3 separate regions of the Homo sapiens genome follow, and all the other regions are linked to region 3. Evidence: fine-mapped expression QTL. A gene starts in region 3. Each other region holds a variant in brackets. All regions are shown on one strand. Distances are from middle to middle.

The links.
Region 1: its variant is fine-mapped to the expression of BLMH in whole blood (INTERVAL, PIP 0.99).
Region 2: its variant is fine-mapped to the expression of BLMH in whole blood (TOPMed, PIP 0.91).

The regions. Positions count from the first base shown.
Region 1 is chr17:30,319,723-30,328,037 of GRCh38, forward strand. It overlaps TMIGD1 (transmembrane and immunoglobulin domain containing 1), which reads right to left. Exons shown (of 7, transcript NM_206832.3): 4 at 5,094-5,372. Among named protein-coding and RNA genes, the nearest start is that of TMIGD1, 10 kb to the right of the region's middle. The variant C/A (reference allele first, on the strand shown) is at 3,277.
Region 2 is chr17:30,386,983-30,395,297 of GRCh38, forward strand. All of the region lies in intron 2 of CPD (carboxypeptidase D), which reads left to right. Among named protein-coding and RNA genes, the nearest start is that of CPD, 12 kb to the left of the region's middle. RefSeq lists an enhancer at 1,045-1,730 and a silencer at 7,489-7,783. The variant G/A (reference allele first, on the strand shown) is at 4,342.
Region 3 is chr17:30,287,516-30,295,830 of GRCh38, forward strand. BLMH (bleomycin hydrolase) reads right to left here and starts at 4,429. Exons shown (of 12, transcript NM_000386.4): 1 at 4,292-4,429; 2 at 3,796-3,993; 3 at 1,858-1,967; 4 at 291-432. The coding sequence starts at 4,304. LOC124903971 (a long non-coding RNA gene) reads left to right here and starts at 7,175. Exons shown (of 2, transcript XR_007065700.1): 1 at 7,175-8,025. It also overlaps the pseudogene RNU6-1267P. RefSeq lists an enhancer at 3,650-3,709 and silencers at 4,160-4,229, 4,430-4,839.

The DNA of each region.
Region 1 (8,315 bases), 32 kb after region 3:
GCTTTCTGGACTAAGAAGGAGAGAGAGGTCTGTGGGCCTCAAAAGCAGTGGGGAGCCTTGTACCTGTACTGCAATGGTGCCCCAAGCAGGTGACAAGACATTATAGAAGGTAGGTGGCTGCATAGTGTCTCTAGGGAAGTAGGACTCTAAGCATGAGCCTTCCCAACCTTGGCAAAGTTTTCTGCATCTCTCTAAATGCCATGCAAAGAGAGAGAGCCTACTTCTAACTTGGACTAGGAAGAGATCAGCAGCAACCATGACAGCTTGGAAGTGAAAGCCTACCCCTTTATTTTCTAAACACCAGGTCAACTGAGAGCTATTTTTTTTTTTTTGAGACGGAGTTTTGCTCCTGTTGCCCAGGCTGGAGTACGGTGGTGCAATCTCGGCTCACTGCAATCTCTGCCTCCCAGGTTCAAGTAATTCTCCTGCCTCAGCCTCCCGAGTAGCTGCAATTACAGGCACGTGCTACCATACCGAGATAATTTTTGTATTTTTAGTAGAGACGGGGTTTCACTGTGTTAGCCAGGATGGTCTCAATCTCCTGACCTTGTGATCCGCCTTCCTTGGCCTCCCTAAGTGCTTGGATTACAGGTATGAGCCACCGCACCGGGCCAAGAGCTACTTTATTTATCAGTCACTATAGGCATAGTGCCTGTGTTTGCAAGCTTTCTAAGAGCCTTTGAAAATATTTGAGACCCAGAAAAAAATGATTGGCCCCAAGATATGAAAAGAAAGTAGCAAAATTAATCAAAATTAATCAATGTTTAAGCATCTGTAAAATGCAACCTGGCATCAACTCTAACCGAACTGTTAAATAATAATGTTTAAACCTCAAGAACCAAATGAGTAACTTATTTATAACAAAATTCAAAATCTATACAAGTTATAAAAATTCTTTCAAAAATTTTATAGCAGAAAGCACATACAATGTGCTTTGCTTTAATATCTTTGATATGATATGGAATGAAACTCTCAAAAGTAAAAGTGAAAGCCAGGCAGCGTGGCATATCCGTAGTCCCAGACACTTGGGAGGCTGGGGCAGGAGGATTGCTTAAGCCCAGGAGTTCAGGGCTATAGCACCCTATGATTGCACCTATCAATAGCCACTGCTCTCTACCCTAGGCAACATAGTGAGACCCTTTTTTTCTTTTTTAAGACAGAATCTCGCTCTGCCGCCCAGGCTGGAGTGCAGTGGCTTGATCTCGGCTCACTGCAACCTCTGTCTCCTGGGTTCAAGCGATTCTCCTGTCTCAGCCTCCCAAGTAGCTGGTACTACAGGTGTACACCACCATGCCCAGATAATTTTTGTATTTTAGGTAGAGACAGTGTTTCGCCATGTTGGCCAGTCTGGCCTCGAACTCCTGACATTAAGTGATCTGCCTGCCTTGGCCTCCTAAAGTGCTGGGATTATAGGTGTGAGCCACCATGCCTGGCCAACCCCTTTTTTTTTTTTTTTAGAGATGGAGCCTGGGTATGTTGCCCAGGCTGGTCTTGAACTCCTGACCACAAGCAATTCTCCTACCTGGGCCTCCCAAAGTGTTGCAATTACAGGCATCAGCCACTGCACCTGGCAGGACCCCGTTTCTTAAAAAAGTAACAAAGTAAAAGTGCTTCAGTTCAACAAAGGTTTTAAAGTGACCTTGTCTAAGCCCCTGGATTCTGATGCCATCCAACGACGGGAAGGAGCTTCAGTCATGGCTTAAGTAACATTTTAGGCATTTAAAGGAAATTGAGCATGTGCTATTTATCGCACAATTGAGTTTATGGATTGAGGTGCAGTCAACAAATATTTACTGAGTGACTAATGTGTGTTATGCACTGTGTTCAGCACTGCAAAAAATAGGACAGGTGTAGAAGGCTCCTCTGCCTTCGTGGAGCTCATCTTCTAGTGAGGGAGACAGACATTAAACAAACAGACACTACAGATTAAGTATTAGAAAGGAAACAGGGTCATGAGTTAGCAAGTGAAGGGCAAAAACCAGGGAAGAGGGGAAGAAGTGACTTTAGGTAAATTTAATTTCAAAGCCCAATCCCTATATACCTTAAGATTATGAAATAGGGTTTATCTCCCCTGTCCCCATAACTGTATAACACACTAACCAGTTATTATTATAATTATTTTTGGAGACAGGGTCTCACTCTGTCACTCAGACTGGAGTGCAGTGGCATGATCATGGCTCACTGCAGCGTCGACCTCTAGGGCTTAAGAGATCCTCCTACTTCAGCCTCCTGAGTAGTCAAGACTACCAGTGCGTGCCACCACACCCAGTTAATTTTTTGATTTGATGTAGAGACAGGGTTCCAATATGTTGCCCAGGCTGTTTTGGAACTCCTGGGCTCAAGCAACCCTCCCGCTCGGTCTCCCAAAGTCCTGGGATTACAAGCATGAACCATCCCACCCAGCCTGTAACTACCTTTTTATCATTTCCTGCTCTGGATAATTTTGGGAAATAAATGGATTAAATTTTTGCCCTCTCTTAGCTGTTTCTAAAAATTATTCTCATGAAGGTATGGGTCATATCACCCCTATGGAGAAACTTTGCTCAGGGAGCCTTTTTCTAGTAAGCCCTGGTTCTGTACTAGCCAGCTCTGGGACACACCAAAGGCCCGTCAACCTTACTGGGGAGCCCCTCTATTTGCAAGATATCAAAACAAAGGGGAAGTAAAGGTGGGACAATAAGAAAAAGAAATCAGAATTCAGTCACAGGTTGGAATATTTTTACCAAGCCAGATAAAATGAAGCCACATGTGACAGCTCTTACTCTATTTTTTTATTTTTATTTATTTATTTTTTGAGACAGAGTTTCACTCTTGTTGCCCAGGCTGGAGCGCAGTGGTGCGATCTCGGCTCACTGCAACCTCTGCCTTCTGGTTTCAAGCAATTCTCCTGCCTCAGCCTCCCAGGTAGCTGGGATTACAGGTGGCTACCATCATGCCCGGCTAATTTTTTTTGTATTTTTAGTAGAGACGGGTTTCACCATATTGGTCAGGCTGGTCTCAAACCGCTGACCTCCTGATCCACCCGCCTCGGCCTCCCAAAATGCTGGGATTACAGGCGTGAGCCGCTGCACCTGGCTGACAGCTCTTATTCTATACACAAACCGAAGTAAACTACCTTACCCATTGGCTTGCTTTGGATTCCAAATTTCTGTTGAAAGTGACTTTGGTCGGGGCATGGTGGTTCATGCCTGTAACCCCAGCACTTTGGGAAGCTGAGGTGGCAGATTGCTTGAGCCCAGGAATTCAAGACCAGCCTGATCCACATGGCAAGACCTC[C/A]TCTCTACAAAAACAATTTTTTTGATTAGCTGGTTCTGATGGCACGCACCTGTCCCAGCTATTCAGGAGGCTGAAGTGGAAAGATCGCTTGAGCCTGGGGGGATGAGGCTGCAGTGAACTATGATTACGCTACTGCACTCCAGCCTGGGTGGCAGAGCGAGACCCTGTCTCCAAAAAAATAAAAGAAAAAGAAAGAAAAAAGAGACTTTGGCAAGGGTAATTACATAACTGCCCCTCTCCCCTTGTCCTGTTTTATGGTCTCATTTGTAACCAGACCTGATATTTCCCTCCTATATTCATCATGGTTAAATAATCCCAACACATGGGCTAAATCTTGTGCTCAAGAAAAGATCTGTGATGTCGTTTGTAGCTTTGCATGGCCTCATTTAGGTACTTCCTCACTGAGCCGTGAAGCCAGGTGAGGGCTCATGAAAATCTTGGCATTTAGCCCAAGCCCCAGCAGCAGAGCATTTATGCCACCAGCCGTGGGAAGTAGCTAAGCAAGAAGAAATAAGAAAAACAAGTTGGTTTGGAAGAGCCCCACCCAAAACAAGTTTCTGCCCACCTGAAAGCCAATTTGCTAAGCTAGCATCCTGATTGCCACATAAGCTGTACTTTTTTTTAATGTGACACAGAGCAATTATGATTTCTTCTTAACCAGGAGGGATATAATTCCCTGGCCTGCAAGTGTGGTGTTCATAGTCAGGATGGCAGGGCATGAGGCCCACCCTTCCATGCTTTTGTGGTCTTGGGGGAGGTAAATAACCACAAAGCTTTTTCACTGCTTCTATCTCATGGGTATTCAGGATATTTGTGGGTTTGGTTTTTAAAACAAGTAGCCCCTGAGCAATTGTTAGTGCTCCGCAGGACGAATTACTGATCATTCCAGGAATCACAGTGATGGGCATTCAACCACCAGTAAGTCTTCTTCCCCACTAGCCACTCTTTTCATATCCCATAACTCTTCCCCTCAAGGGGAAGCAAATAAGATGTCCTATGGTTACATCACCACAACACTTCTGGCAGGGGTTCAGCTGGCTTCCTGGTGACTGACAAGACTGGCAATAAGTGAGTACAGGGAGGCAAATGACAAAGTGAGTAATGTTCTAACAAGATATGGGAGTCTCAGCTTGTTGGGCTGCTCCTGGTGTGCTAGCATGAGAGCAGACCATGTGTGAATGAGCATTTTTGGCATCTGCTACCCCAGGTATTTTGCCTTTCTCTTTTTGTATGAGCAAGAAATATGAGGAGGGAAAACCCCACAGAGCATCATTTGTTCTGTCATTGTAGAGGTGATAACCCTGGGTAGATGAAGCATGAATCCAAGAGAAAGGGCTTTTTTGTCCCCTTATTTTTTCCTACTCTCTCTGCTGATTACCCTACAGGTTAGAATTTGAGTTAGGAGTGATTGTAGGGATCCATTTTCTTATCTAGTCCTAATTTCTCTTCTCTGTGTGTTTTTTACTTCTGTTAGTTATGAAGCTGTGAACTCAAAAGTCCAGTTGCTACACACATTGTTGCCCAGGAGAATTCATGGAAATACTCTTCCCTAAAAGCCAAGCAGGATTGTTTCCTATATTTGGTTCTAAGAAAGGATTCTTGCTCAAAAAACAGTGTCCTGTATGGAATGGGCATGATTTCCCTGAAAGGATGGACTAGGATTCTTAGTGGAAAAATCCTTGGATGGGGATGATTCTCCAAAGAAAATCCTGGCCCTAATCATAACCGTTATTATCATTTATTGTCACCAGAAATATTCACTGAGCATCTGGTGTGAGTTTTGCACTGTGCTGGGTATTACTTAAAAAGAGCATTACCTTTAACAATCAGGTGAAAGTCCAAGCTCTCCGTTTTCAGAGATGACTTTGCAATACAACTGTAGGTTCCGTTGTCAGGCTTCTCGACTTTGGTGATTGACAGCTGAAAAGACTCACTTGTCTGTTGGATTTGGTGACGGCTTTTCTCTAAATCGAGGAGACTACTGTTTTTGTACCACATCATTTGAGCCTGGGGGTTGGCTTTCACATTGCAAACCAACTTCACATTACTGCCTTCCTCAACTGTTTGGAAGTCGTTTCCACTTAGGAGAGGAGGAACTGCAAGACTCAAGCATTTAGATTTAATTAGCAGATAAGCAATAGTTCACTGTCAGAGTTCAAAGTCTTCCTTCAATCTATCTCATGTGGTCATTTATTCATTTGACAAAAATTTATTAAATACGTACGGTGTGACAAGCACTGGGGTAACAAGGGCAAATAACACTTCCAGTTCCAAATCTCATAGAACTTTTAATGTGATGAAGAAGACAAACCATGAAACAATATATGATTATGAGCATGATATATATAGTAATGATCTATGACAAGCAGACAATTTGTAACACTACCCAAGAGTATAAGCCTTGAGTCTTTCTTCTCTGAGAATTAATAAACCAACCTGTGCTAGTGTTGCACAAAACAGTACAAAATTAAGAAGACATACATTGCAATTAGATCTAATTCCATCTACACCGTTTACTGTGACTTTGAGACAGTTAACTAACTGCTAAGGCCTCTGTTTCTCATGTAAAAAAAAAATGGGATAATCATACATCTCCTGAGATGCTGTAAAGATTAAATAAAATAATCCCTGTAAAGAATTTGCCACAGTGCTAGCCGCTATTATTATTACGGTGGTGGTGGTTTTGAGGGTTACTCTCACCGTCTGTTTTTGCATTTTATCGAACCATTGCCTTGGTAACATATTCACCAATGCATCTTTGCGTTTTCTCAGTGGTGCTCTAGAAATAATGTCCTCCTCCCAGAAGGTGTTCTAAGCATGAGAACTCTGGCATCTGTGGAAGGCAAGTGAGTCCCTCTCATCCCTGTGTGTGAGCAACTCCTTTTTTCCTCTACAATAAGGGCAGTTGTAGACCCATAGACAGTCAACACATCTATCACTGTGCATATTCTGGCAGAAGTGCAGAATAGTAATGAAATGGTTGGAGAGTGGGAACTAGGAAAAAGATAGAGACGGAGAAGGAGGAAAAAGGAGCTTGTATAATCTGCACACTGAATAATTAGACCCTGAGTAGGCTGTGTTATTAATAACTCTCTCAGAAGAATGACATTTTGTTGCTCTTTGGAATGAGCTCGAATTCTGTATCATATCCAACAAGGATGTTATATGGTATTCAGATAGGAAGGAAGCTGCTGGAATAGAGAACATAATTGCCAAATGGAACAATTCCATTTGTGGACAGATTCTGTTAGTGATTTCTTTCTATTTAACTATTTGAAATTAATTTAAGCATATCAGTATATGTGAATATCCCCTCTGTAAAAATTAGTACATTTTAGATAAAGCTAAGATCCAAGCTGGTCACTTCCTGATCCCCAGAGATACCCACTGTTATGAGTTTGGTGTAAATCCTTCCCTATCTTTCTTTTTTCTTAAATAGTTTTCTATACATATAGTGTACCCATAGGAAATATATCATATTATTTTAGGGACATGGGAAGGTTTTACATAAAATACTTCCTTTCTCTCAGTAACTTGCATGTTTTTGAGATATGTTTATATTGAACCACAGAGATCTAGCTTATTGCTTTTAGAATGCTATAGTATAATGTATGCCTTTAATCATTTGTGTTTTGATGGGCTTTAGGTTGTTTTCATTTTAAAATGTTAAACAATGCTACAATAAACATCCTTGTACATATCTCTTTATGATCCTGTACATGTATTTCTCCAACGTTAACATCTAGAAGGAGAAATGGTGTGTCGTAAGATATGCACACTTTAAATTTTGATAAGTATTTTGAAAGAGGTGTTCTCAATTTAAACTTTCAGCAACGAGGTATGAGAGGACCTGTTTCTCCACATTCTCCCCCAAACAGTGTATTATCAAGCTTCCATTTAGTTCTTGATTCTGCTATTTATAACAATAATGGTCCTGCCTTTGAAGGGTACATAATATCCTTGTCACATTTTATGAGCTCATTTTGATTTATTGGTTGATGACTTTGTGTCAGTACTGTCATTATGGATTACTGAGCAATTAACTATACACACACACACACACACACACACACACACACACTTAGCAACAATGATATTTAGGAGATTGTTATAAACAGAATTTAAACAGTGGATTGAGGCTAGAAAACTGAAAACAATTTCTTTAAGTCATCAAATCACATTGTTGGCATTTCTGCCATGTCTCCCTTAAGAGGGTTCCATCAGCCTGGGCAACATAGCAAAACCCCGTCTCTACAAAAAATACAAAAATCAGCTCGGCCTGGTGGTGCACGCCTGTAGTCCCAGCTACTTGGAAGGCTGAGGCAGGCAGATCACTTGAGCCTGGGAGGCAGAGGTTATAGTGAGCTGAGATTGTGCCACTGCACTCCAGTGTAGGTGACAGAGTGAGACCCTGTCTCAAAAAAAAAAAAAGTTTCGTGGAATAAGCACTTAAGCACTAGGTTAGAAGCTTGGGAATTAGTGTTTTATTCTCAGCTGCACCTATGATTTGAGCCCCTAGTCCGGGCCTTAGTTTCCTTAGCTGGCTTTTTATTTTATTTTATTTTATTTTATTTTTTTTGAGACAGGGTCTCACTCTGTTGCCCAGGTTGAAATGCAGTGGCGCAATCACAGCTCGCTGAAGCCTCAAACTTCTGGGCTCAGAAGATCCTGTAGCCTCAGCCTCCCGAGCAGCTGGGGCTACAGATGTGTGCCACCATGCCCAGCTAATTAAAAACACACCTTATTTTTTTTTTTGGTAGAAATAGGGTCTCACTATGTTATGTTTGTAGAGATAGGGTCTTTCTACCAAATCATACTGCATCATTATACCTCACCCATTGCCATACCATCCACACCATTCTCATGCAGAACCAGCTTTTCACCCAACAACCCATGTGATCATCTACATTGTATCACTTGACAGTCCCCTAAGCCTATACAGTTCTACCAATGGGTTACCAATACCTGGAACCCAATCATTGAAAAGCTTCACCTTTTTTGATTTTAAGGTGATGTTTAAAGATTCCCTAATGAAAATC
Region 2 (8,315 bases), 99 kb after region 3:
CTGGGTCAAATGGTAATTCTATGTTTAGCTTTGACAGACTATTTTCCACAGTAGATATACCATTTACATTCCCACCAGCAATATATAAGAATTCCAATTTCTTATGAAATGTTATTTTTTAAAGAATTGTTTGTTGTTGTTGTTGTTGTTTTCAGATGGAATTTCACTCTTGTTGCCCAGGCTGGAGTATAGTGGCATGATCTTGGCTCACTGTAACCTCCGCCTCCTGGCTTCAAGTGATTCTCCAGCCTCAGCCTCCCAAGTAGCTGGGATTACAGGTGCCTGCCACCAGGCCCAGCTAATTTTTTGTATTTTTAGTAGAGATAGGGTTCCATCATGTTGGCCAGGCTGGTCTCGAACTCCTGACCTCGAGTGATCTACCTGTCTCAGCCTCCCAAAGTGCTGGAATTATGTATGAGCCACCGTGCCTGGCAAGAATTGTTAATACAAGCTTGAACTGTTTACCTTTTCTCTTTAAATGCTATGAAAACAGCTATTACTCTTTTTAAACTTTAGGTATGCTTTGAATAATAACGTTTTTGTTTTTATGCACAGATGTAGATGTAGAGGGAACTTAGAAGGAATAAGTCAACCAATGGAAATGTCATCAGTGTAAATTTTTTCTTTTCTAGGAGTCTGCCCATGATGAAATGCCTTAGGTCTTCCTTACCTTTTTATTGGCAGTCACATTATAAAGTGTCTTATGACATGTCTCTTAATGTATATTTAAACCTTTGAATTACTCTTTTACTTTTTATATCAAGCCATATGTACCCAAAATGGGTCATAAGTTTGAGAATTTAATACTTTCGTTACTGGATCTTTGGGGTATTGCTTTTCTGGTTGGAAACCTCTGTGCCTGGTGGTGCCTTTGCCCAAGTTCTTGTCCTGCATCCAGGAAGAATGAGGTATGCAGACAAGTGGAGGGTGAGCAAGACAAAGAGGAGCTTTATTGAGCTCAGAGGAGACCGGCAGTGGGCATCTCCTCTCTGTAGGCAGGTCACCCAGTCAAGTGTTCAGCCCTCAGCACAAAGGAACCCTGGAGTGGGTGGCCCCTCTCTACAGGCAGGTCATCCTGATGAGTGTTCAGCTTCAGCTTTCAGCAGAGAGGAGCTACCCTCTGGTTGTCCCATCATCTCTCCATCCTCTGCCTTGCTCTGACTGAGCCCAGGGCTTTTATGGACCTCAGAGGGGAGGAAGTGTATGCCGATTGGTTCATGGGCGCCACGGGCAGCCTGGAAAAGGCACAAGTCCCCACTCCAGTCTATGGGACTGGCAGCCTGGCCCCCAGCCTTCAGGACCTCCCTGGCCTGAAGGTGGGGCCTCACCAGGGACCCCCTCCCTTATACCCAGGAGCTAGTCTGCCTCTTGCTGCTTTCCATGGCACCCCGGCTGCTCGTGCTAAGGGGCACCTGCAAGCCAGTGCTGAGTCGCCCTCAGTCCCCAACCTTGGTTCCCTCTTCCATGCTTGTCAGTGCCCAGTCCGGTGGGGGCCCAGGCAACAGGGCCCAAGCATGTGCGTACCCCTCCGGGCAGTGACAGTGCGCCGCCTCAGCTCCAACCCCAATCCCGGATAGGAGCAGACGCAAGAATGGGGAGAGGCCAGGCAGCAGGAGCAGGCATCTCCAAGCCTGCAAGGGTAAGGGGGGCCTAGGAGGTCGGGGGACGCAGCTGCTGCCAGCTCCCAGCTCCCGCCGACTCAGTGGAGCATGCAGCCCCAGCCGTGCCCCCTGGGAGCCTGTGGCGGGTGGCTCCTAATCCTCGCTGGGCCTGGGCCAGTGTCTGGGCCAGGGGCGACATTGCCACAAGCTTCCCTGTTGCCCTGGGGCTAAGGAGTGGCCCGGAGCTGATTGCGGGCCTGGGGCCAGGCTGTCAGGAGTGTCAGGCTGGGAGGTCACCCCACGTGTGGCGGACACTGGGGACTTGGCCCCAAGTGGCCCGCGCAGAGCCTCCTCCCGAGCCCAGGAACCCGGGACCCTTAGTGGGGTGGGCGCAGTGGCTGCACTTCTGGCCAGATCCCCAAAGCTGGAGCAGCTCCTGCTTTCCGCCCCGCCCCCGAAGCACAGCCCCAGCTCCGCATAGGGGTTCCTCTCTGCCTGACTACATTACTCCCCCGCTGTGCTGCTCTGGGCCTGACCCCATTACGGCAGCCCCCAGGGCAGCGGGCTCTGGGGGGTGGCAGCGGGCTGTGGGGGGTGGCTGCAGAAGGGGTGGCTGTCCGCCTCCTTCCCGCACCTTCCGGCCTGCTGCTGCTATCACTTTCTAGAATTTTCTGATCCTCCTATAGTTTCTACCAGTGTTTCTTGTATATCAGAAGCATTCAAAAAGAGGTTTGACATACTATTTAGAAGTGAAACCTTCTCCCCATAACAATTAGAGGTGATTTGAAAATCATTAAAAATTTTTTTGTAGATAATGGACTTACTTTAATGTGTAATTTTTACATTTCAGTCCTTGGGAAATATATTTAATAAAACCTAACTTTGAACTGGTGGTTTTGTAATCTAGTCAAGTTGCTTCATTAATTTGAGATGATGTTACTTAAAATAATGGGGTAAATACTTAACTTTGCCTTTTTGGAAAAAGTTGTAAAAGGTTAGAAAGTAATTTCTAACTGACAATTAATTGAGGAAGGTAAATGTATCTCATACTACTTAAAAAATAAATATCCGGCCTCTACAAAACGTAGGTGTACTTTGGTATTAAGGCCAGAGATTATTTGGTGAAGCTAGTTATCATCAGATTTTTCTGATTATTCAGACATCTGAAGAAGCTACATTATGCTGCTGTCATTTTTATTTTCATGAGCATCAACTTTTCTCTTGTTTCAGCTGAATGTCGGATATGTCCTATGTTATTTCTACAATAACTGGCTTATTTCTCTTCGTACCTCAGCAAATATTGAGCAGTTTCCCCTTGAAGAGGAGGCTGTGATGGTTTTAGTTTCAACAGGGTGAATTCATTGTGTTTAGTGAGTAAGATGTTGTGAAACCTTGTGACTAGGCATATATTCAAAAAACCCGGATGTCCTGGAGTAATTTTTTTTTTTTTTTTGAGACAGAGTCTTGCTGTGTTGCCCAGGCTGGAGTGCAGGCGTGATCTCAGCTCACTGCAACCTCTGCCTCCTGGGTTCAGATGATTCCCGTGCCTCAGCCTCTTGAGCAGCTGGGATTGCAGGTGTGTGCCACCATGCTGGCTAATTTTTTGTATTTTAAGTAGAGACAGGGTTTTACCATGTTGACCAGGCTGGTCTTGAATTCCTGGCCTCAAGTGATCTGCCCACCTTGGCCTCCCAAAGTGCTGGGATTATAAACGGGAGCCACATGCTCAGCCGAGTAATTTTACTGATGTTCTATGTGATATATTTAGGAATTCTAGCTTAAAGAAGTATAGACCTTTAGAGCTGAAAGTGAATATATTGATTTAGTCCAACCCTTTTGTTTTAGAGAAAATCAAGGCCTGAGAGAGGAACTAACTTGTGCAATATAATGTATTAATATAGCAAATATTTACTGAGTTCCTGCCGTGCCACATATACTGTATTAGGTGATGTACCGGTATACAGTGAGAGCAAAACAGAAACAACTCCTGCTCTGAGGAATCAGATAGTATATTAGTAGTGTGGAATCTGGGGTGATTTGGGCCCTAGTGCCTTTGCCTTCATTGCCAGGGCTGGCCCAGCATATCTAGCTGCCTATGTGGGTGAGCCTTGCTTCATTCAACATGTCTCACAAACCTCAGGATCCATTTAGGAAATGGCTATCCTAATAAGGCTGATGAATAGCCACATCCCCTTCCAAAGCCTCGTTATTGTGAGACCTACTCTGGACTTGTTCATGGAGTAAGATGCCTTTTTTTTTTTTTGAGATGGAGTTTCGCTCTTGTTGCCCAGGGTGGAGTGCAATGGCACAATCTCAGCTCACTGCAACCTCTGCCTCTTGGGTTCAAGCGATTCTAGTGCCTCAGTCTCCTGAGTAGCTGAGGTTACGGGCATGTACCACCATGCCCGGCTAATTTTTGTATTTTTAGTAGAAACAGGGTTTTACCATGTTGGTCAAGCTGGTCTTGAATTCCAGACCTCAAGTGATCCACCTGCCTCGCCCTCCCAAAGTGCTGGGATTACAGGCCTGAGCTACCGTGCCTGGCCGCCTTTTTTTTTTTTTTTTTTTTTAATCACAGTGCGCTGATTTGTATGCCATTTGCCTACCGTTCTTTCTTCACAGTTTTGAAGACATTGTAAAAATCATATGATGTTTTGGTATGTTTATTCCAAAGCAGATTTAATAAAAACTGAACTGTAGTTTTAGGTCAACTTTTAAGCCATGGCGTGTGCTTGTAGTC[G/A]CAGATACTTGGGAGGCCAAGGCGGGAGGATCTTGAGTTCAAGCCCAGCCTGGGCAAAATAATGAGACCCTGTCTCCAAGAAAACAAACAGACAAAAAAGAATTGCCTTCTTTCAAATTATACAATTTAAGGAAGGGCAGGCAACGTATAGTTGAAATTATTTGATCAAAGATCATAGTTTTATGTAACTTTTAGAAGTTTTCTTGGGCAGAACATTGTTATATTTTATTTTCTTGCAGATAGAAGAACAGTAGAAGGCAGTGCAATGTAGTGGCAAAGAGAGAGCTTTGGAATCCCGTTGCCTTAGGTTGGAATCACAACTCTGCCTTGACTAGCTGTGTGCGTGTGTGTGTGTGGTGTGGGTGAGAGACAAATTAATGAATTTCTCTAAGCCTCAATTCCCACTTATATAAAATTAAGATAAATACTATCTACTCACAAGATTAGGAGGCTCAAGTGAGAATGTGTGTAAAGCACTTTAGCCTAGCATCTGGTGCCATGGCTACTTATATCTACTAGAGTTTAAACTTACTCTTGAAGATAGGGACTTTGTTTTATTCCATTTTCTATTTCTAGCACACACAACCATGCCTGGTATATATAAGGTAAATAATAGTCTTTTTGGAATAAATGAATTTTTGCCATCCGAAACATAAATACATAGTTATTTGATCTTTGGATAATCTTTTTTTTTTTTTTTTTTGGAGACAAAGTCTCACTCTGTCACCCAGGCCGGAGTGAAGTGGCGCAATCTCGGCTCACTGCAGCCTCTGCCTCCCAGGTTCCAGCGATTCTCCTGCCTCAGCCTCCCAGTTAGCTGGTGTTACAAGCATGCACCACTACGCCTGGCTAATTTTTGTATTTTTAGTAGAGACGGGGTTTCACCATGTTGACCAGGCTGCTCTCTAACTCCTGACCTCAGGTGATCTGCTCGCCTCGGCCTCCCAAAGTGCTAGGATTACAGGCATGAGCCACTGCGCCCGGCCTAAAATCTTAGATCTTTAGTTAATCTTATAACAATTTATAAAAATATTCTTCCTAGTTTTGCTCCTACTCTGAGTAAATAAGCTTGCCTTACTGGTAGATCCTAGATCAGTATTATTTGAACTTTTTTTTCTTACTTTTAACCTATAATATGAAATACCTTTTAGTTGTGTATGTACATTTCATATATATGTGTGTACATTAAAAAATTTCATGGAACAATACTTTTACTATACATTCTGGTATTATTTCTTTTAGTTTGTTCTATATCATTCTTTAAAAAATATGTCTGAACCCACTAATATATCTCACAACCCACTAATGCATGATGACCTTCAGTTTGAAAAAACACTATTCTTGATCACCCTGTGGTAGAATTCATTTATTTTCAAATTCTAAGTAGGAACAAAACACCTTACAAGTTGTGTGTGATAACTTATTATTTGGGTTTTTCCTCCCAACTTGTTTATATGTTTCAGTTATTTGCAGTGAGGACTGGGCCACAGATATTTATCTCAGATGTTCTACTTTTAGATTGCTTTCCCTAAAATACGAATGAGTGTTGAGTTAGGAAATTGGTCAGAAATATAGTTGTCAGGCCTATGTATTGCTCATGTGAGTCTATGGATTCTATTATTAGTTAGGACAGCTGCCATAAAGCTTTATATTTGTCTTCTTAAGCCACTATAAACTTGAGGCTGAGCCTTTTCAAACTAGTAATTATGATTGTTTTCTCCTCTGGAAGAAGAATAAACTGTTCTTTGGATTTATCAAATTTTCTTCCCTCTCCTTTTATACAATGGACAGAGTTATGAAATGTGGCCAGAAAGCATATAATGTAACCAATTCAGTTTTTTGTGTGAATATCAACTCCTTTTATCATGCAGACAACTATTCTTTCCCCAAACTGGAGGTCAGACTGAGCAGTAGCAGTGTGCTTTAAATATTGAAGTATGTTTGGCTGGAAGTAGATTGTTGATGGAAAAGGAAGAGCATGGGGAAAATAATTACCCACCTGTTTTCAACAATGCTGTTGAAAGTTTAGATTTGGTCCAGAAATGGACCAGAAAGCTTATTTTTGAGGAGTATTTTCTGTGTCATTAAATAGGATATTATGAATTAACCCAGTAACACCAGAAAATTGTAATCTAAAACAAAAAGGAATAAGATGAACAGTATGTAACTATAAAAATACAATATCTGATATTAAGAAACAGACAAATCCATAAATATAGTAGGAAGTTTAAAATAGGCCTCTTTCAGAACTAGTAGGTCATAGAGATCATAACTGTTAGATCACAAAAATGTGAGTAAGGATACAGTGGATTTGAATAACATAAATAAACCAATCTGACCTAATGAACGCGTACAGAATACTGTCCTTATATCTAATTTTCCTGCAGAGTCTGTTTACTAATTTGAGGTGTGGATGACTAAGAAACCAGCTGTCACGCTTAGGGAAGATGCATCTGGTTCTGTTAGCGCTTGTGTTACTTTGTTTTTAAGATTATATATTAAAAACTAAACAACAAAGATACACAGGTAAAATAGGCCCAGGAGCAGTGGAGCACACTTGTAATCCCAGCACTTTGGGAGGCTGAAGTAGGAGGATTGCTTGAGGCCAGGAGTTTAAGACCTGGGCAACTGGTGAGACCTCATCTCTTAAAAAATACAAAAATTAGTGGGGCATGGTGATGCACCCCTGTAGTCCCAGCTACTTGGGAGGCTGAGGGGCTGAGGCAGCAAGATAGTTTGAGCTCAGGAATGTGAGGCTGCAGTGAGCTATGATTGCACCACTGCACTCCAGCCTTTTTTTTTTTTTTTTTTTTTTTTTTTTTGACAGGGGAAGACCCGTGTCAAAAAAAAAAGAAAAAAAAAAGCTTATAATACAGGGTTCATAGGATCAAGTCTAATACTTCTTAGCATGGGAGCGAAGATCCCACAGTCTGACTCAAGCCTATAAGTTTAGCCTCAGCTCCTACCTCTCCTCTGCCACCGGACTACTTGTCCTTCCCAAATGTGAACCTTCACATGTTAGGCTATCCTCTGTCTGAAGTGCTTTTCACCAGTTTAGCTGTAACCTCTTCTGAAACCTCTCCTATAATAACTGTCACTATCCTACCTTCGAGAGCTTTTTGTTTATACAGTACCATCAGTATAATACTTATCCACTTATGTTGTTAATAGTTTTTTTGTTTCCTGTTAGTGTGTGAATTCTTTGATGATAAGGACAGTGTAGTGCTATTCGTTTTGGAGTTATCTTTGTGCAAAATGTATTGGCAGGAAAGAGTCCTAGAGGAGGGAAAACTAGAGAGGTGTTTACAGTCATCTGGGATGAGGTCTCTTTGGAGATAAGGGCTTTACCTAGAGGGCATGTAGGGGAATGAAAAGGGAGTATAAGATACATATATAAGAAGTTATGCAAGAAGAACTGCAGAATTGACCATCGTTTAAATAGCAGAACAGAATGTCAAAGAGAGGATGTCAAAGATATGACTTTGAGGATTTTGAGCTTGGATTAGAAAGAATGGGAGTGGGAAAAACTAATTGGATGGTGGGGATTGGGAGACAGCAAGCGAGTGAGCATGTGTGTATGTGTGTGTGTGTGTGTGTGTGTGTTCGTTCAGGTGAAAGAGGAGTGAAAACTGGAAATATTAATAGTACTTGATGTACTAGTCACAAGTACCCAATGGGCAGTTAGGGAATAGGTTCTAGAGCTTGGGAGAGAGGTCAAGATGAGAAAGAGATTTAGAAGTTTTGAGACATTTGGAAAGCATATGGCAGTGTAGATGATTTTGAAAATTGAATTAATAGTGTTTTCTGGCATAATTTAATTGCGTGGAGCTAGAAGTTCAACCAGAACATATATATAAATGAACAGATGGGTGCTTTTTTTTTTTTTTTTTTTTTACCTCTAAAGTGAATGCATTTCGTACTGGGATGTTTTCCTTAAGGAATGCCAACAATTCAGATATTAATTCTCAGCCTGA
Region 3 (8,315 bases):
TCCTGATTACATCAATGGAGAAGAAAACAATTTTTTCATGGAAAATTAGTTCTCCTTAATACTACCTTTTCTTCTCCAACCCATCCTTCACAGTAGCTCTCTCCTTAATCCTCATTTAAGAAGGCACTTTATAGGTGAGAATGTGAACTAAAGGTCCTTAGAAATAACTATATATCCTTCTTGGAGACCAATTCTACTCTGTACACAACCACCAAAGAATTGGCCCATGCCTAACTACAGGCTTACTTAATCATGCTGAGTTTCAGTTCCATTAAAGAAAGAACTTTTACCAACAATATTAACAAGCATATCCCATTGGCCACCATCATTTGCAGGGTTCATAAGCAAAAACTGCACCAGCCTCCCATCCTCAGGCTCCTTTCTCTGGGCTGTGTCCACAAAAGCACTCAAGAAGAAATAACAGCGTTCAACCTAAAGAGTAAAGAAAGTTAAATAACATTAAAAGAAAAAAGTGTCAATAATTTTATTGGCATTATCAACAGAATGGGAGTCTTGGAATTACCATGGAATCAACATAATAGTTTTTTTTCTTTTTAAAAACATGAAACCTTCATGAATTTGCATGTCATCCTTGTACAGAGGCCATGCTAATCTTTTCTGTATCACCCCAGTTTGGGGACTTACGATGCTGAAACAAGCACCATAATAAGTATTTTTAAACTAAAATTGGTAAATAAACATCAGTATCTGACTTCATCAGAATATCTGAAGTTTCTTCTTTTACCTGTGTATGTATCCCAATATATTGTGTATATGTGTACAGTGTTTACATTCCAATGCTAAAACAAAACATTTAATGAACACCTATGTAATATATATTTTATTTACTTATTTATTTTTAGACAGGGTCATGCTCTGTTGCCTAGGCTGGAGTGCAGTGGTGCAATCTCACTGCAGCCTCAACCTCCTGAGCTCAAGCAATCCTCCTACCTCAGCCTCCTGAGTAGCTGGGAGGACAGGTGTGCACCACGCGTGGCTAATTTTTGTATTTTTTGTAGAGATGGGGTTTCGCCAGGTCCAGACTGGTCTCAAATTCCTGGGCTCAAGCAATCCTCTCACCTCAGCCTCCCAAAGTGCTGGGATTACAGGCATGAGCCACCAAACCAGGTCAGTAATATACATTTTGAAGATTAGGAAATGGAATATGGCCAGGAGTGGTGGCTCACACCTGTGATCCCAGCACTTTGGGAGGCCAAGGCAGGCAGATCACTTGAGGTCAGGAGTTCGAGACCAGTCTGACCAACACGGTGAAATGCCCTGTCTCTACTAAAAATACAAAAATTAGCTGGGCATGGTGGCATGTGCCTGTGATTCCAGCTACTTGGGAGGCTGAGTTGAGAGGATGGCTTGAACCCAGGAGGCAGAGGTTACAGTGAGCCGAGACTGTGCCACAGCCCTCTAGCCCGGGTGGCAGGGTGAGACTGTCTCAAAAAAATAAATAAACAAATAAACAATCAAATAAAATTATTTACTGTTTTTCAGACAAGTTCTTGAGAGGGAAATTAGGTCCTAGAAAAGAACAAATAACCTAAAAAGATGTTAAAAAGGGAGATATATTGAATTGAATATTGAATATAAAATTTAAAATTTTAAATAGACAAGCAAGCAGTAAGATGAGTCAGTAAACTTATTTCATTGCAAAAAAATGGCCACCTACCAACCAAAAACAGTTCTGCCTTTGAAAGAGTCAACTTTTGATACTCTGGAAGTCAGAATAAAAGGTGTCTCACCTATTATGAAAGGGCAGGCTATAACTGGAAAAGCTACAAAAGAAGAGGCAGTCCCTACCAAGGCTGATATCAATACAAAAAGAATCTTGCCAGATCTGTCCCATACCTTGTCCCAAAAAAACAGGTAAGATTGGCTAAACTCAAATTCTTCAATATTTAACTTTTTCATGAATGGAAGCCTCATAACATTCAGACAAGAAAAGATCCAGCATCGCCCTGAAACAAGAAAGCACATCAAGAAATTATGAGGGTTCACATAGACTGCACTGCTCCAACTGTATTTCCCACCAATGAACTCATGACACGATCTGGACAATTCAGAAAGAGTAAATCAGAAAGAGCAGAAAGATTAAAAACAAAACAAGAAAGGTGGTAATTATTATTAGCAATATATATGCAAAGGTTTAATATCTTTAACACAAAAACACTCTTTACGTATCAAATAAAGAATCCATTTTTCAGAGTAATGCCTTCTCCAAATTGTACTCTACTTCAAAATAAATTAACTGAGAGCGCCATTAGAAAAGTCTTTTAAGGTCTTAAATACAGGGAAATTATCTCTTTTCTGAGGGAAAATTCTGAGGGAAAAACTTTGACTTGTATTGGGTATAACCTTTTTACTAATATGAAAATATGTTTATAATATATTGGTAAGTGAAAAAGATAGGTAGCTTACATAACAATGTATAAGGTATCAATGCATATTAAACACTATTAAACACACACACACACACAAAACTTGACAAATATACAAGAAAAATATTTACTTGGTATTTACAAATATTCTACATTAAACAAAAATAATTTTGTAACAAGAAGAAAACTCTAGTTAACTATAGTGTTTTATGAAAGTCACTAGTGCCTATTAGTTCGTCTTTACCTTACATTTACCTGTATGTCACCTCTCTTCTATATGCTATATATTTCTAGTAGAGGGGATCTGGATGCACTGGTGATGTGAAAACTGCATGAAAATAAACTACACAACTCACATGCTATTTGGATCTTTTGTATGTAAAAGTGACACTGCAAAATGTGTAAGACCTGACCTGTTCCCTAACGGGTCACTGCAATCTAAACTATGTAGGACCACTGTGACATTACTAACTGGATCATCTGTAGCCTGAGAGCCCACACCACTCCAAGCACTTTCTTCTAAAGCAAAACATTAATTATTGTAAGGTCTTGACTTTTTCCTTAACATTTAAAAAATCAACTTTATTCAGGTATAATGTACATACAATAAAATGTACTCACGTTAAATGTGTGCTTTGTGAGTTCTAACCGACTCTAAACAAGCACTGATGTGCTTCCTGTCCGTATAGATAGACTGGGGGGTCGTTTTTAAGTATAGAAAGACTTTAAAAAATCCGTTTAGTACAATTTTGTTGTGAGAATGTGCTCCTTATTTAGATTGCTGGATATCCAATCTTTCACTATACCTGTTTTTTCTGAGAGTGGTGCTAGAAAGCAGATAGCAAAACGAGACTTCTTGACCAGCAAGGCATGAGAACAGAACTTTTTTCTGTATTACAAACTGATCTACTGGTGGGAACTGAGCCCATCAGCACATTAGCTTCAGTTGTAACCAAGAAGCATATTTAAAAGTAACATCTGATGACATTTTAATGTAATTACATTGTATCTTTTCTATTTCATAGTATAGGGCCTTCAGGGCATTTCTGGGGAGTCCTCCAAAGATATGAACATTTTCACATGTTCTGTTTTGTGACCAAGACCATACATCTCCAAGACACGGGCTACAAACCACACAGCATTGGAACATAATATAGTCAATTACACTCAAACGTATACTCATGGACATGTCACTTTTGTACTCTAACCGCATGTACTAACAAGCCACAGAACAGCAAAACAAACCACATGGGTAATGTTCTTAGACCTGCCTGTACCTGTGCCTCATTCTTTACGAATTTACGACCAGTTCTTTCAGTACGAATTTAAGACCACTCTTAAATAAGACACCAAAATGGGACGCTGTCAGGAAGGTCAAGGAACGTATGGGAGAAGTGGAAGCCCACACCTGAGCTCTTCTGGTTGGTGATTGGCTTGCCCTCCTGGGGCACGGCGTGCTGGAACACATGCTGCGCGCGCTGCACCGTGGCCCGCTTCAGACAGATGTCCAGCAGGTCGTGGGTGGTCCCGACATTCTGGGCAAGTACGAACTGGGGGTCGGAATTCAGTTTCTGTATCAGAGCAGCTACCTTCTCCGAATTCAGTCCTGTTGGGAGACCAAACAGGATTTTAACGCAAAAAGAGGGGGAAAGGGCTGATCTGGGGCTCCCGCGTCCCGAATCTAACTTCGTAAGCGCATCCTGGGGTGCCCGCTGCAGCGGGGAAACCCATAAGCGGCATCCTCCTCCAAGGAGCTGTCTCCCTCCAGGCCGATCCAGCCTGCCCCGAAAGCTCCCTCCCCGCCATCGCCAAGGGTCCCAGCCCCCGGCCTTCCCCGCCGCCGGGCCTCACGGGGACCGCGGAGCTCCTCCAGAGGACCGCGGCGGGGGACGGCGGCACCTCACCCGAGCTGCTCATGGCGCCCACGCTGCCCGGCGGGGTAACGGTAGCTTCCAGGGTCCTTGGGCGAGCGCCGGGATTGCGCTGCGGCTCGCTGCCTAGGGGGCCCGACCTGTCTCTCGCACCCGGAGCGCCGGAAAAAGGAAACCGGCTCGGCGGCGGCGGCGGCGGCGGCGGCGGGGAGGCTGAGGCTGGGAGAAACGGGGTCCGCGGAGGGACAAAACTCCCCCCTCGCGTTGCTGAGTCAGCGCCGTCGGGGCTGGCCCCGCCCGGGGGAGGGCCGACGGGGGCGGCCTAGCTGACGCGCTGGGTCCGCCAGCGCCCGGGGGCTGAGGCCGCGCCTGCCCCCGCGCAGGACCGCACAGATGGTCTGCGCGCCAGGGCGGCGCCGGCGCCTTCTCCCCCTAGGTTCCCGCCTCCGGGCCGCGCGGGCGCCCTCCCGGGATCAGGCCCGCTCCAAGGAGGGAGGCTGACGGGTTCCCTGTGGGCCCAGACCCCCAGTACTCTAGCATCGGGGAATCGTCCCCAGGAAGCCTTGTGAGAAGCCAAAAGGGAGCTCGAGGCGGGAGGGAGGAGCTGAGAGGTCCCATAATTAAGCGTCGGGCTTAGGACGGGTCGATATGTCACAAGGAATGCACCCGAAGGCTCTTCCTATAGGCTTCGTTTGCTGACCAATCACTGCATTCTCAATGGCAACTTGTTGCTTGGATTCTCATCAGAAGCAAATAATTGTCTTTGAGGGGGAATGGGAACCAAGCTCTTCCCCACCCACTCCAAAGCTACTACCAGAGTTCTACAAATAGACATCTGCTCATTTCAAGAACACTACCCATCTGGTCTTCACGGAGTCCACGAGTGGCTCCTGTATAGTCCAGCATGTCCCGTTGGGTTTAACTCAGGAGGATGACAGAGGCTAGCCGTATGCATCAATATTGTTTCGCCGAGTTCTCTACAAAACTAACTGATGCTCCCCCTCTAGGCTTTCAAGATAACTCAACAGTTTCCCAAAGTTTTGAGATTGTAAAAACCTTGTTTTTGTTGATTCCGTGTTTCATGCCCTGAAATCTCAGCCCTTAGTAAGATGCTGGGATAGAACCCACAGAGAGTAAAACAAAAACACTGAAACCCTGTATCTGCTATTCAAAACGATGAGGTTGAGTGTGTGTGTGTGTAACCTAGAATCTAGGTCTTCTTAGATTGAAAATCATCGCAGTTCTAAGGAACTCTGATATCTGGAAAAATCCATACTCAGGCACCAATCAGTCATTTGAGAAAGCACGGTTTCTATGTCCCTAGAGAGACTCGGCTAAAAATTGGGGCTATAACATAGCAACTATCTTAAGTGGGCCCATCAACCATCCTATTCTGAGGTTCTTTCAATATCTGAAAAAGAAGAGGCTGAAAATTATACAGAAAGAAATCACTGGTCCTTTCACAAAATGATGTTCAAGCATCCTGCCCAATTCAAGTCATAAATTTTTATTCAGTATCTAACATGTACTAGGCACTGGACAAACTGCTGATGACATAGAGACGAACAAAGCTTAATCTTGCCGTTAAGAAACTCAATGTAGTAGGAAAGAGATGCAAAACAACTTTTAGACTATCTGTAGTAGCATACCAATAGTGCTGTAGACTGTAGAAGCAATGAGGAGAGCACTGTCAATTAGGGCCAAAGGGTGCCTGAAAATAGAAGTGACAAGAGAGCATGATCTTGAAGAGTGGATGAGATTTTTACAAGTCAAAGAACAGGAGAAGGGCATTCAAGGCACCAGCGAAGGCGCAGTGAATAAAATCATGTTCAAGAAAGGGTGCATCATAATCGGATGTGGCTAAGAGCAAGGCATGTTTTGGGAGCAGAGGCAAGGTGTAGGACTGGAAAAGTTTTGTAGGTTTGGGCCAAGATATAAAGGGTTTTATGTTCAATGCCTGAGCATCTGGACTTTATCTTATGGTTAATTAGAAGACAAAATGGGTTTTGAAACAAAGGAAAAATATGCTCAAGTCTGTGTAAAAAAAGAAACCTGGTGGCAGTGGGGAGAGTAATTTGGAGGGGAGGGGCTCTGGAGATAGGGAAACTGGTTAGAAGGTTCTTCCAGTAGTGAACTTGGGAGAGGACAAAAGCCTTACATTGCGGAAAGGGAAGAGGCATTGATAATCTTGAAGTTTTCAGCGGAATAAGAAGATGGAAGGTGGTGTCATTAACCAAGAGAGGGCATACAGAAAAATAGGCATATTTGCATATTTGCAAGTGTGCAGATCTGAACTGAGTTTGGGCCATAGCAAAATTAGGATGCCCCACAGGACACCCAGGAAGAGAAGTTCAGGACGTAGATGAAAAGATGTCTAGAGATTAGATGAGACACATAGGTTCGAGGTGGAACAATGAAAGTCAGCAGGGTTACAGAGGGAAAGAGGATAGAGCAATAAAGAGATGAAGACCACAGATAGTGCCCTGGGCTGCAATGTGCAGTTGCACAGGGTGTTCATGGCACAAGGGCACCAGGCTGAGTGTGGTGAGTAGGGACTAAAATGCAGTCCAGGCTCTGCTTGCCAAGCCATGCACCCTGGCCCAGGCTGTGCACAGAGTATGATGTACCTTTCACTACTTTTTTTTTTTTTTTGAGATGAGTCTCACTCTGTCACCCAGGCTGGGGTGCAGTGGCATAATCTCGGCTCACTGCAACCTCCACCTCCTGGGTTCAAGCAATTTGCCTGCCTCAGCATCCTGAGTAGCTGGGATTACAGGCACGCACCACCATACCCGGCTAATTTTTGTATTTTTAGGAGAGACGGGGTTTCACCATGTTGGCCAGGCCGGTCTTGAACCCCTGACCTCGTGATCTGCCCACCTCGGCCTCCCAAAGTGCTGGAATTAAAGGCATGAGCCACCACGCCTGGCCCCTTTCACAACTTCTTATAAGGATGCCATATGGGAGTAGTATTAGCTCTGAAAATGATAATGTTTAAAGTATGGGTGAAGACAGAGGAGCCAGCAGAAATAGAAAGATCAGTCAGCGAAGTAGGAGACCCGGGGAGTTATGTCCTGGAATCCCAGGAAGGCAAGGAGAGGACAGTGAATTGAATTAAAAGCTGCAGAAAGTCAAGTAAGATTGGTTTTGGCAACTGGGTTACAGGCAACCTTAGAGAGGGCAGTTTTAGTGGAAGGGAAGGGTGGGCAGAAGCCACATCGTAATGAGTTGAGAGGGAGGTAAATATTAGGGAAGCTCTTTGGGGAGAAAGGGTAAATTTGTGTCTACTGGAGGATGAGAGGAAGGAACCAGTACAGATGAGAGATTAAATATGTGTCAGAGAGGATACAATTGCAAGAGTAAGAGCTCAGGAGGAGATGGAATCACTGGGGAAGGTGGAGGGGACCAGTTTTACAGCTATTGCCACCCTTTCCATACTGGCGATTACATTTCTCCACCCCATGCCCAGAGATTTCTATCATCATCTCTTTGCTGGCCTCCTGCTCTGTCCTCATCATCAGGGTGGCACCCTTATTACCAGATTTCCACCCAGCAATTCACACCCATGCACTCAGCCCCCATATGGGCATGGTGAGGAGGTACAGAATAAAACCGGTTTCCCAGTGGGTTACCCCCAAATGACCTACCCAGGAAGACATTTCTCCAAGAAGAAAATTCTGTGTTCTATCCTTCTTATTCCAGCCAGAAGAGATGTTGTACAGCCCGGTGACACCTCGTGGGACAAAGCAACCAGAAACAGAATTCTAGTATGAAGTCTCTAATATTAAAAAAGAAAATATTGCCTGTAATCCCAGCACTTTGGGAAGCTGAGGTGGGAGGATTCCTGCCTTGAGTTCAAGGCCAGGAGTTGAAGACCAGCCTGGGCAACATAGTGAAACTCCACCACTACAAAAAAAAAAAAAAAAAAAGAAAGAAAAAGTTTTATAAAAAATTAGCTGAATGTGGTGGCAGACACTTTTAGACCTAGCTACTCAGGAGACTGAGACGGGAGGATCACTTGAGCCCAGGAGTTTGAGGCTGCGGTGAGCTATGATCA